3 linked regions of the Homo sapiens genome follow. The protein of the gene in region 3 purifies or fractionates together with the protein of the main gene of each other region. This does not show direct contact. Each region holds a gene or a part of one and is shown on either strand. Other genes may lie near its edges.

Evidence for each region.
Region 1: the proteins of MAT1A (region 3) and RPE fractionate together in Homo sapiens (co-fractionation; one large-scale study listed by BioGRID). This does not show direct contact.
Region 2: the proteins of MAT1A (region 3) and PYGB fractionate together in Homo sapiens (co-fractionation; one large-scale study listed by BioGRID). This does not show direct contact.

What each region holds. Positions count from the first base shown.
Region 1 is NC_000002.12:210,015,991-210,019,637, reverse strand, and holds part of RPE (ribulose-phosphate 3-epimerase), read right to left. Parts: coding exon 3,526-3,647; intron 3,435-3,525; coding exon of another isoform or gene 3,381-3,434; intron 3,132-3,380; coding exon 2,997-3,131; intron 2,166-2,996; coding exon 2,079-2,165; intron 1,849-2,078; coding exon of another isoform or gene 1,751-1,848; intron 1,486-1,750; coding exon of another isoform or gene 1,420-1,485; exon of another isoform or gene 1,417-1,419; intron 1-1,416. UniProt on the Homo sapiens protein: Catalyzes the reversible epimerization of D-ribulose 5-phosphate to D-xylulose 5-phosphate.
Region 2 is NC_000020.11:25,275,495-25,279,141, reverse strand, and holds part of PYGB (glycogen phosphorylase, brain form), read right to left. Parts: intron 2,497-3,647; coding exon 2,385-2,496; intron 1,899-2,384; coding exon 1,816-1,898; intron 824-1,815; coding exon 680-823; intron 86-679; coding exon 1-85. UniProt on the Homo sapiens protein: Glycogen phosphorylase that regulates glycogen mobilization. Phosphorylase is an important allosteric enzyme in carbohydrate metabolism. Enzymes from different sources differ in their regulatory mechanisms and in their natural substrates.
Region 3 is NC_000010.11:80,272,515-80,276,161, forward strand, and holds part of MAT1A (S-adenosylmethionine synthase), read right to left. Parts: intron 2,686-3,647; coding exon 2,503-2,685; intron 2,140-2,502; coding exon 2,006-2,139; intron 1,370-2,005; coding exon 1,267-1,369; 3' UTR 1-1,266. UniProt on the Homo sapiens protein: Catalyzes the formation of S-adenosylmethionine from methionine and ATP. The reaction comprises two steps that are both catalyzed by the same enzyme: formation of S-adenosylmethionine (AdoMet) and triphosphate, and subsequent hydrolysis of the triphosphate.

The sequences.
Region 1 (3,647 bases), on a different chromosome or scaffold from region 3:
AAAGGAAAATGTAGAAAAACCTAAAACAGAATTCCTGGACTAGAGTGTCTACCCTTGCATCTGTCAACATTTCAATCATATGAGAGCCACTTTGAGATTAAGCAGACTTAAGCAATCTAGTTCAATAAGAAAAATTTAAAATGTTCACAGATGAGGATGTCAGACTATTTTTAAATGTGTCTAAGAAATCATTGACCTTTCTGGTAAACCAACTCTTAATAATCTACATGGTATCTTTGCGACCTTTAGATAAGGTTTAAAAGCCTTTACTCCTCAAGTCCACTAAGGTTTTTCCCAATATGCACCAATGCCTCTACAGTTACTAAAAAAACACTTTTATTCTTTGAATTATATTTATATGAATTTGTGAGTGTGAAAGGACAATTATTGCTAAAAATGTAAAATTATCCATAAACTACGGCAAAATTAAGTGAGTTCTCGTTTTTGTGTCAAAAAATAGAATGTCTCTTTATACTTCATTGCATTTCAGAATGGTTTTGAAGTGGCTTTAAAAAAGTTTTTAAGATACATTTAAATATGGAAGCAAAGAAATTGAAAAAGAAAAGCTAAAAAATTGGGTCCAAATTTAACTCTGATCTTCCTAGGATCTGATTCAAGGATGGAAACCCAATCTGTTTTGTGATTCATTGCTAGAACAAAGAGGGAGAAGTGGGAGAACCACAGGCTGAGGAAAATTTTTCCAGACAGATAGTGTCACTTCATGTATGACAACATTTCTAACAATATTCCTCACAGAAATTATAAAGGTGAGTTTTATAGGGTTAACACTGCAAATATTCTCTTCAGTTAACCCATTTATGCCTAGTGTTCCATTATTGGAACGCTAAGCTTGTGGGAGTTCTTCATATCCTGCTGTTTAAGGTCATCGCCAAGGTCTGATTTTTCACACAAAAAATTTGCTACCTCTGGCATAAAAGCAGGAATAGTATACTGGCAAAGCACAGTTTAGTACAAAGCAATTCCACAAGCGATCAAAAGGATATGAGCTCACTCATCATCTGGCCAGCCCCTCCTGCATAAGTATTTACTACTGTCAAGCTTTTGATAGGTATATATCAAGCAGAAACGTGTGGCAGTTATACAAGAACCTGGAAGTAGATACATCACACTGTGGAAGAAAAGCAGTCATGTAAGCTTTAATCACTTGCAGTGCTACCAGAAGGGCTGGCATCCTCAGGAGCCTGACTATGCTAGACTAGCTATCTGAAAAAAAAAAAAAAGTAAAAAAAAGTTTTTACTTCTATACAGATAGCCAAAGAGGTATCAGGCCTAGATTTTCATCAAAAATGGTTCTAGCAAGTTCTTACAAGGAACAACTAAATAATATGTAGGTTCTAAAGAATAATGTAATAATTAGGTCAATTAGATTTATCTATTTTCCCCCCTTGGTAGTACCTTTTAATTCCGTATTTTGGAAAAATTTCTCACTTCCAAGGCCGTGAAACTTAATGATCTTCCAAAGGGCTGAAATTCAACATATTCTTTTATAAAAAAGAACTTTCTTCAGCCTTCCTGAGAAAACCAGGATTTACAATTTTAACAATTTATGTGATTTTAGAATATCCACTTACGGGCCAGACGCCATGGCTCACATCTGTAATCCCAACACTTTGGGAGGCCGAGGCAGGCAGGTCACTTGAGGTCAGGAGTTTGAGACCAGCCTGGCCAACATAGTGAAACCCTGTCTCTACTAAAAATAAAAAAATTAGCCAAGCATGGTGGCAGGTACCTGTAATCCCAGCTACTCAGGAGGCTGAGGCAGGAGAATCGCTTGAACCCGGCAGGCAGAGATTGCAGTGAGCAGAGATCACGCCACTGCACTCCAATCTGGGCCACAAAGAGAGACTGTCTCAGAAAAAGAAAAAAAAAAAAAAAAAAAAAAAGCATATCCACTTATGGCTGTTTATTTTCCTAGTTGTACATGTGAACAAAAAATACTTTTCCAAGAAAGAAAGTCAACTTAGGAACCACAGAGGGAATCGCTGGCCCATGAGACAATGTCCTGGAGACATATTTGACGGGAAATTGGTCTAGTCATAGTTGAAGAGCAATCTCACCTCTGCACATTTATGGACAGTGTCAGGACCTACTCCACCATCGACCTCTATATCCAAAGATGGGAACTGGGTCCTCAACCAGTGAACCTAGATATATACATGAGGAAATAAGTAACTCCTAAAGTGGGTATGTTGGTGGGGGTGGGGGTGGGGGACAATCAAACAAAAAAATCCAACAGCAAATATTAGCAATTAAAACTCCAATTGTCTCACACAATAACTATACCAATACAACATATTACTGGGGAACACTTGGTTTTTAATAGCAAGCTTTGTTCTATTTGGCAAACAGCAATCTGTATTGTCTTTGCAGAGACTGTCATGTAAACAAGACAGACAAATCCTCAATAGTCAATGACAACTTCCAAGAGATCTAAAAGTTAGAGATAATAGTTTCAAAAGGAAATTTCAAGACTTCCAGGCGTGGTTGGCTGCCACCTGTAATCCCAACACTTTGGCAGACCAAGGTGGGAGGACAGCTTAAGCCCAGGAGTTCAAGACCAGCCTGGGTACGTAGTGAGACCTCCTCTCTACTAAAATGTGTAAGAATTAGCCGGGCATGGTGGTATGCACCTGTAGTCCTAGCTACTCAGGGGGCCGAGGCAGGAGGATCTCTTGAGTCCAGGAGGTCAAGGCTGCAATGAACCCTAATTGAATTACTGCATTCCAGCCCAGGTGACAGAGCAAGACTTTGTCTCAAAGAAAGAGAAAATTTCAAGATAAAGATGTAATACTTCTCTGATTTCCAAATCAGAAATCTATTACAGCATTTATTATACTGTATTAGAATGATCTGTAAGCATCCCCATCTCCTCACCTTCAGAACAGGTTATGCCTAAATATACAAGCCTTTCAATAAATGCTTACTGAATGAACACACTGTAAAAGCCTCACCCCAAAATCAAATACTTCTTTTACCTTTGGCATCATATCTTCCATGAATTTCTGCCCTCCAAACCCCGGTTCCACTGTCATAACCAAGGCCATATCTATCTGATTAGCCCATGGTGCCAAATACTCAACTGAGGTTCCTGGTTTGATGGCAAGGCCAACCTGTAACAGACACAAATATGCTATATCACATTTACAATTACTTCTGTATTATATTATTGTGGCATAGCAGGCCCAGTAGAAATATCTGTTCTTATTTTTTAAAAGTTAACAAGACTATTAAATGTAAGTATTTTCAACAAGCAGTAGCTTTCAGAAAACTTTAGTGGAATACATAAATGCTATGTGACAAAGAAGTTAAATCCTGGCATCATAGCTGAAGAACAGCTGCTTAAGTAAGGTATTCTTTACCTGCAATGGGCCCTGACTGTGCCACTGCACTTCAGCCTGGGTGACAGAGCAAGACTGTATCAAAAAAAGAGAAAATTTCCTGTTTCCCGCAAATCTTCCCAACTGAGAGTGAATGTTACAAAACACTCTCATCACGATTTCTTACCTTCATCCCATTCTCCCGAATGTCTTTAATCAAAGCCCCTGGGTTCTCAGTAGCCTCGAGATGAAAGGTGTACTGATTGGCTCCTGCTACAGCCATTGGCTTTACCCACTGTTCTGGCTTGG
Region 2 (3,647 bases), on a different chromosome or scaffold from region 3:
AGTCCACCTTCTCCACGTCCACCAGGATCCGCATGAGCTCAGGGATGGAGAGGGCGGGGTGGGTGTCGTTCAGCTGGATGGCCACCTGAAGGTCGCACAAGGGGTGCCATTCAGTCATTTCATCCCACGTGGGCACCCACGGTTGTTGGCATACGAAGCTCCCCAAGTGAAGGAGCCAGCCCAGCCCACCCCACCCCCGAGAAGCCTGGAGAACAGGGAGGGGTTCTGTGGAGGGAGCAGGGAGGACAGTCGGGCTCGCACTGTGGCAGGTGTGCGCTGTGCCCGATGTGCCTGCTGGTGAGTGCCCTACAGCTGTGTGCTCTGCTGCGGGTATGTGCTGCAGCCGGAGGGGAGGAGCCGTGGCCACCGGGGCTGGGGGCTCTCTCACTGGAACTATAGGGCTTTGTTTGGAATAACCCCATTTAGCCTGCCCAGCACATCTGACTTTGCACAGGAGCCTTTCACCATGTCCCTTGCTGACCTGACTCCTAACAAGGCCGGTGGCCCTTGTTCTGGAAGGGAGGGCCCAGGTGGGATCCTGGCCCAGAATGACGAGACCCCAAGACAAGGGGCATGTACCATTCCACTCTAGCCCCTTTTGGGACATGAGAAAGCAACCTCAAGAGCCTGAAGGCGCCCAGCCCCTGGCACTGAGATCCCTCCCAGGGCCACCATGCACCTTGTCTGGGAACGTCTCGAAACAGGTTCTCACAGGGTCCCGGCAGCCGAACTTGGACGACTTGAAGCGGCGGATGATGTCCTGGAGCGTGGCGGCCACCACGAAGTACTCCTGCTTCAGCCGCAGCTCCTTCCCCTCAAAGAACTGCACACAGCAGAGCAAGCTGGAGGGTGCAGGCTGGGCCATTCTCCTCCCCCAGGAAGCCCAGGTCAGCGACCTGGCTCAAAGGTGCAGGCAGAAGGCCGAGAGGAGCCCAGCCCAGCTGCCTGACACTGGGGCCTGCCTGTGTGCCCTCAGGTCACTGAGGAAGGTAACCCCGCCTGTGGGACACACCCCGGGACACAGTGTCCATCCGTCAGAAGTACAGTGCCAGCGCTGCTCAGGAGCTGCACTGTCCAAGCACAGGCCTTCTGGAACATTCTGTACCTGGGGCTTGGGGTCTGCCAACAGTCTCATGGGGACAGGGGAGTGCACTCTTTGATGAGCCTTCCGGCACCCAGGCCTTTGCTCCTGTGTGCACAGGTTACTTTCATAAAACAAAAAGCTCACTTTTAAACATGCTCTGCCCACTAGGGCATCTTCTAAGGACTTGTCAGGCAACAACAACAAAAAGAAAGCCACTGGGCACTAAATGCAGGTGGCAGTGGGGAACATGGCTGCGACACCATCACCTAGTATGGGAAGGGCATGTGCCAAGGACCTTTCAAATGTCCCCAGGCATCAATGCCAAGTAGGCGCTACGGTCCCCTGGACAGACAGATCACCTGCTTGGGGAAGTGGCACTGCAGGCTAGAACAGCACACAGACTGGAGGGCTGACGGGCTCCAGCTGGCCCCAAGGAGCGGCTGTGTGTTTATGAGGGGAGTGGATAAGAGGGGAAGGTGGCAGAGAGTGTCCTCGGAGAGAGGACCACAGAGCTGCCAAGAGGCACACGAAGAGCCGCTTGGGCTTTATGGAGGACAGTGCACCCTCTCCTCCCCAAGGGCATCGTGTGTGCACCTAAGGCGAGAGGGCCACCAGGTGGCTGCTTGCCAAGGCCAACAGCAGGCCCCACTGGGGAGCCCGGCCAGCCAGCCCACCTCTCTATGCCAGAAAGCGATACGGCCTGAGCAAGAGTGCCCAGGCCAGCTACTCACGTTATCATTTGGATACAGGACCCTGGAGATGTTCTCAGCCAAGTTCCGGTCCAGGACCGCCTCGATGTAGTCTCCCACGTTGACTAAGAAGAAATGGAGCGGGGTCAACACACACATGCCTCCTGGCACCAGCACTGCAACCGCTCAGGGGCCTACTTGCAAAGGCCAAGGAAACTCGCTCGAGCACAGGACTCCCCCAGCCGCTGCATTACTTCCCCTCACCCCCATCCCTGGAGGTAAACGTGATCCCTCCTGCAGCTCCCCTATGTACCGCACACAACTCCATCCCCCTCACTCCTCCCCAGGGGCACATGATCTGCACAAGGTGACCCTGGGTGCCCAGGGCCCAGGTGTCTTGGTCGCTCTGCCTGTAGGCCCTTCCCGGGCAGGCCCCACACACAGGTAAGCTGCACCAGCCTCGCTCTTCACTGGGACGCAGGGACACCCTAGAGGAGGGCCGCGCGGCCTCCAGGACAGTGAGCCACAGGGCGCGGTAAAGGCTGTGGGCGAGGGTGTCTGGGACCAGCCACCCACATGGACACAAGGGTGCCAAGAACCACGGAACGTACAGTCCTGCAGCTTGAAGTCGTTGGGAGCCTTGGCGGACCACAGCCGCATGGTGTTGACGGTGTTGTTCTTGTAGCCGGGCACTGGGGTGTCGTAGGGCATGGCCAGCACCACCTGGCCACAAAACGGGTTGCTCAGGACGGAGTGGCAAGGGCCCCCGCCGGCCCCTGTGCCTCTCCCCGGCCCAGCCTCCTCCTGGGCACCTGGCGCCCTGCTGGCCCCCCACCGTCTCCCCCTTCTGCCCAAACACATCCACCCAGCCCATGCTCGGCACCACAGTCTCCGTCCACGCCCTCCCCTGTGGTGCCCACATTGTCATCCTGAGAGGACCACCCGTCCCACCACCCTCCCCAGACCAGACCTATCTTCTCACTTGACCTTCCTCAGGAATGGCTTTGACTGAAGAATCATCCCCATCCCGACTCCCTGAGGTGCTGCAGCACCAACCCCCACCTCCCTCCTTACCCTCTGCCCTCCGCGCCTCCCCTCCTCAGTCAACTCTGCTCTAGCAACTCCAACACGCAGATGCTTGCCCCGCAGATCACCTCTCTCAGCTCCACCTGCGGGAAGGTTGCTCCTGCAGCTGCCTTGCCTGCTACCCTCCATGTTCCCAGCCCCCCAGCACAAGCCCAGCTGCGCTCCCTCCACCCCAGCCTGGCTCCCTCTCTCCTTGACAAGCCCCCAGGTTCCCCTGCATCCAGAGACATCAGCTCCGCTACCACCAAGGGCAGGAGGGGGCTCACAAAGCTGAGGCTCACCTGTGGTCCCAGCTCCCCGGCAGGCGCACTCAGGGATGCTTGGGTTCATCCCGGCACACACGTGCCTGTGGCACTGCCAGTCAGCTCTGACAGCCACACAGGCGGCGCACCGGGGCCACCAAGACTAAAACCCCAGTATCCCTTTCCCTTCCTCTCTCCTGTCAACCCTTGCCCCTGCCCCACAAGGCGACACCCAAGTGAGCGACAAGTCCCCGCCAAGGCATTCTAGCCCCTTCCATCCTGGCCAGGCCTCGGGGCTAAGCCCATCTTCACAGCCTGCCTGGAATGTCCCGGTTCTCCAGCATCCCCACTCACACTGACATGCTCATCCACAAACACATCTACAGCGCCGGTCCCCTACCCTGCTCTTGCAAGTTAAATACAACTTTTCAGGGCATTTTCAGCCTCCATGGCATGGCCCCAGCCACTCGAAGCCCATGTATTTGATTTAAAACTGTGTCCTACAAAGTCAAGACAACTCCCTCTGCACACCAGTGACCACCCAGC
Region 3 (3,647 bases):
ATGAGGCCATAGGACCAGCCTCCCTGGATCCGAAAGGGCCACTCACTCCCTCCAAATGCACTCAGCCTGCAGGGGATACAAGGGACCAGGGAAAGAGAAAGACTTGAGGGCCTCTGTCTAAGGGGCTGGCCATCTGTGCTAGGACAAGTTGCTGCTTCTGCTCCAGGAAGCCCAGATAGGACTGGACTGGACTTAGACCACTTACCCCAGAAGTCCAAAAACCCAATCTCTGCATGTCTCTGAGTGGTCAGGGGGCTGGGATTCTAAAGCTGCTGGTCAGTCCCTAACTCCAGCCTACCCTGATGGGCCAGGTAAGCCAACTCACCCTCAGTCATCTTCTGGGACACATGAAGCAAACAAAATAGCCCTGTGGTTCTGTCTTCACTTTTCAGACAATTGCCCACGGCTCAACAAGAGCTAGTGGGTTAATCCCCTAATTTCCAGTAACCTCAGGCCTTCAGGACAGAGTCCATGGCCTCATTTCTGAATCTGCTTTGTCATTGTTTGAGCCTGTTACTGGCATGAGACAACGGTGGGGGAGGGGGTATGTCACAGGCTCCTGAGTCAAAGCTCCTAGTTATACATCTAGGTCTAAACACGTGGCTGTGGGACCCTGTGGAAGTTATCCAGACTCTCTGTGCTTTGCTTTCCCCCATCTATAAATGGGATATAAAAGGTACTACCTCATCATGTTGCAGTGAAGAAAAAACGAGATCAGTTATTAGCTGGGTCCCTCGCACATTACAGGTGCTTAGGAGACATCAGTCCTGCTCTAACCCCTGCCACATGCCTGGCCTGGGTGGGGCTTTCTGGAGACCCTGGCTCAGGGCACTGGCTGCCTGTGAAAGGGGGGTCCAGGAGCCCAGGCCCACAAGGAGCCCTGAGGCCTGTTGAGATGTGCTGACCTCACCTGGCACAGGCAAGGGGAGGGAGGGGGAGCTGGTCAGGGTCCAGCTGTTGGGGGAGACGAGTGAGGGAATTCACTCTTGACGGGGGTGCCTTTTCCACTAAATTAACATTGCCCCAGTCTGAGGGAGCAGCAGGAGAACACCATGCCCATCCTTACATCAAGATCCAACCTCCAGCACCAGGAAGCCCCTGCCTCCAGCTGGCCATGATGATGACAGGACAGGCTAAATGAGAGGGACCTGGCTTTGCCCTGAGGGTTGGTGGGTGGGGAAGGCGATCAGCAGCCAGGCGTCTGGGGAAGAGGAGCATGGCCACCAGGTGCCTCCAGGGTGAGACCAGGCCCAGCTCCCCCTGGCTCTAAAATACAAGCTTCCTGGGAACCTCCCATGGGAACTCGCTTCTTCCGAAATGGCCGTAGCATGCTGTCTTCTGGTAGATGGGCTTCTTCAAGTCCAAATCCCTGCATGTCCAGCAGAAAGGAAGGGCATTGGAAGATGGAACAGGAGCAGGGTTTCTTTCTCCATTTCAAGGACAGGAGGGAGCAACGAACTGTAACACAGCCCTCCTCGCATGGCACTACGCCTCCCCACCGCAGTTGCGCGCACCCATCCTATCTGTGCCATACCCTGGTCTCGTTTTATAGCCCCACGGATGCTTAGAGGTTCAGGGACCAGGATCTAACTCCAGCCTTCCGGTGCTTTTCTCCTCCCACTCCACTTACCTGGCCCAGGCCAATGTTGACACCACTAAGCTCTAGAAACGGAATAGACTTGCTGACTTGATTCCCAGCCATTTGAGCTATTTGGCCTTATATTAATAATTATTTTCCTAAGATCCCCGCCTGCCTCCCAGTTGCTCAGAGATGGCCCCACTGGAGTTGGTGTTGACTGGGCCAGCAGGAACCTGGGGCAGCCTCCTTTAACCTGACAACCAGGCTTTCTGCACTGGGGATGCACTGTGCTGTACCAAGAGCTCACAGACCCTCCCACTTCTGAGAGGCAGAAACATCCTCCTTTCTGCCTCCCTTTCAGGTGAGGTGAGCATCTGGGCAAGGAAGGAGCAAGGTCCTGTGTAATAGCAGCGCATGGCACTTTACCTGACAATGACGCCCGGCCGGAGGTCGAAGTTCTTATGCACCACATCCAGCAGCTCTCGCTCTGTCTTCTGAGAGGTTCCGTAGGTGAAGATGGAAATGGACAGCGGCTCGGCCACACCAATGGCATAGGAAACCTTCCAGCAAGGTGCAGCGTCAGGGATTGAAGCCTCTGTGTGGGCCCTGCCCCTTTCAGAAGCTTTGCCCTTCTTCTGAAGGGACCAGCGGGGACCACATGCCTCTTGCCCCACATGCTCCCCTGCAATTTTCCTGCTATCTTCACCGAGGGCAGTTCTTCTACACGCCTCTCTCCCTGAAGATTCTGGTTTTCCCTCCCCTAGGTTTTCAGAGCCCTGGCCACAGTGCCCAACACAATCACACAATCACAACCTTTGGCAAAGCATGCAGCTTTCCCACCGGGCCAACATCCCCTCACTCAGGGCAGAACTGGGCAGGGGTCCTCCACTGCAACAGGACGGTGGTGGGTGGAGGGGGCTTACCTGGACAAGCACTCTCCGGCAGAGCCCTGCTTTCACCAGAGACTTGGCCACCCAGCGGGCAGCATATGCAGCTGAGCGGTCTACCTTGGTGTAGTCCTTCCCAGAGAAGGCCCCACCACCATGAGCCCCCCAGCCGCCATAGGTGTCCACAATAATCTTACGGCCAGTGACACCCGCATCCCCCTGCAGAGGGAGAGAAATCAAGATAAGAAGCAGAGCCAGCCCCTAGATGCTGGAGGGGGCTGAAGTACTGTGATGGCAGCTGAACTGCAACTCAGGAAGGATGTCCTGGGGCTGCCCACAGACATTTTCCTAAGACCCCTTAGCCCAGAACTCTGGACTCCACTCCCAGCTCAGTCACTGACAACATATTGAAAACAGGTAACCTGCCAAAGCTTCATTAGCAAGTGCAGAAGGTGGGCCAGGGGTTCTCTGGGGTCACAGCCACTCCCTAATGCCTTTGTTACTGAGTCCATCACAATGGAGAGATCCAACTGCAGGCAGGAACTGCACTGTCATAAATACAACCCTGGCTGGTGCCACCTAGCAAATGCCATGCTGCCCACTTCCCAAGTGTCCTCTGGGCAACACCAGTCAATAGTGATGTCTTTAAAAGGGTGGGAGTTCTATGTTAAATGATTTGGGGAAGTCTGCCTGCTCTACTCCCCCTTTTAGAGATCCACAGTTCATACTAGTATGTCTAGGCTTTGAGAAGTCCTGCAAGAAAAAACAATAAGTGTTACCTCCTTCTACTCTGTGTTTCTACACTCTACTTGCTACTGGAACCCGGGATGGAGCTCAACTCTGGCAAAGCACACACGGCTGAGGGCCCAGGCAGTGGGCAGCAGCCTCACAGCAGTGCCCTCAACCTCCACCTCCTCACACTTGCAGTACAAGAGAGGGGGCAGTGGTGCCCTGTCTAAAACACCCTGTCCCACTCTGGTGCCCACAACAGCCAGAGGCAGCCTGTGGTGAAGATCTGGAAACAGCCACCCGGGAACAGCTGTCCACGTGCAAATGCTGCAGTGGGGAATGTGCACCAGAGCAGGGTGAGGTGCAGCAGCCGTGGGTAAGGTCGATGGTCACTTGAGATGGCAGGAGTGGGAGGGCCCAGTGGCGCTAAGTGGAGGAATCCTAGGGACATA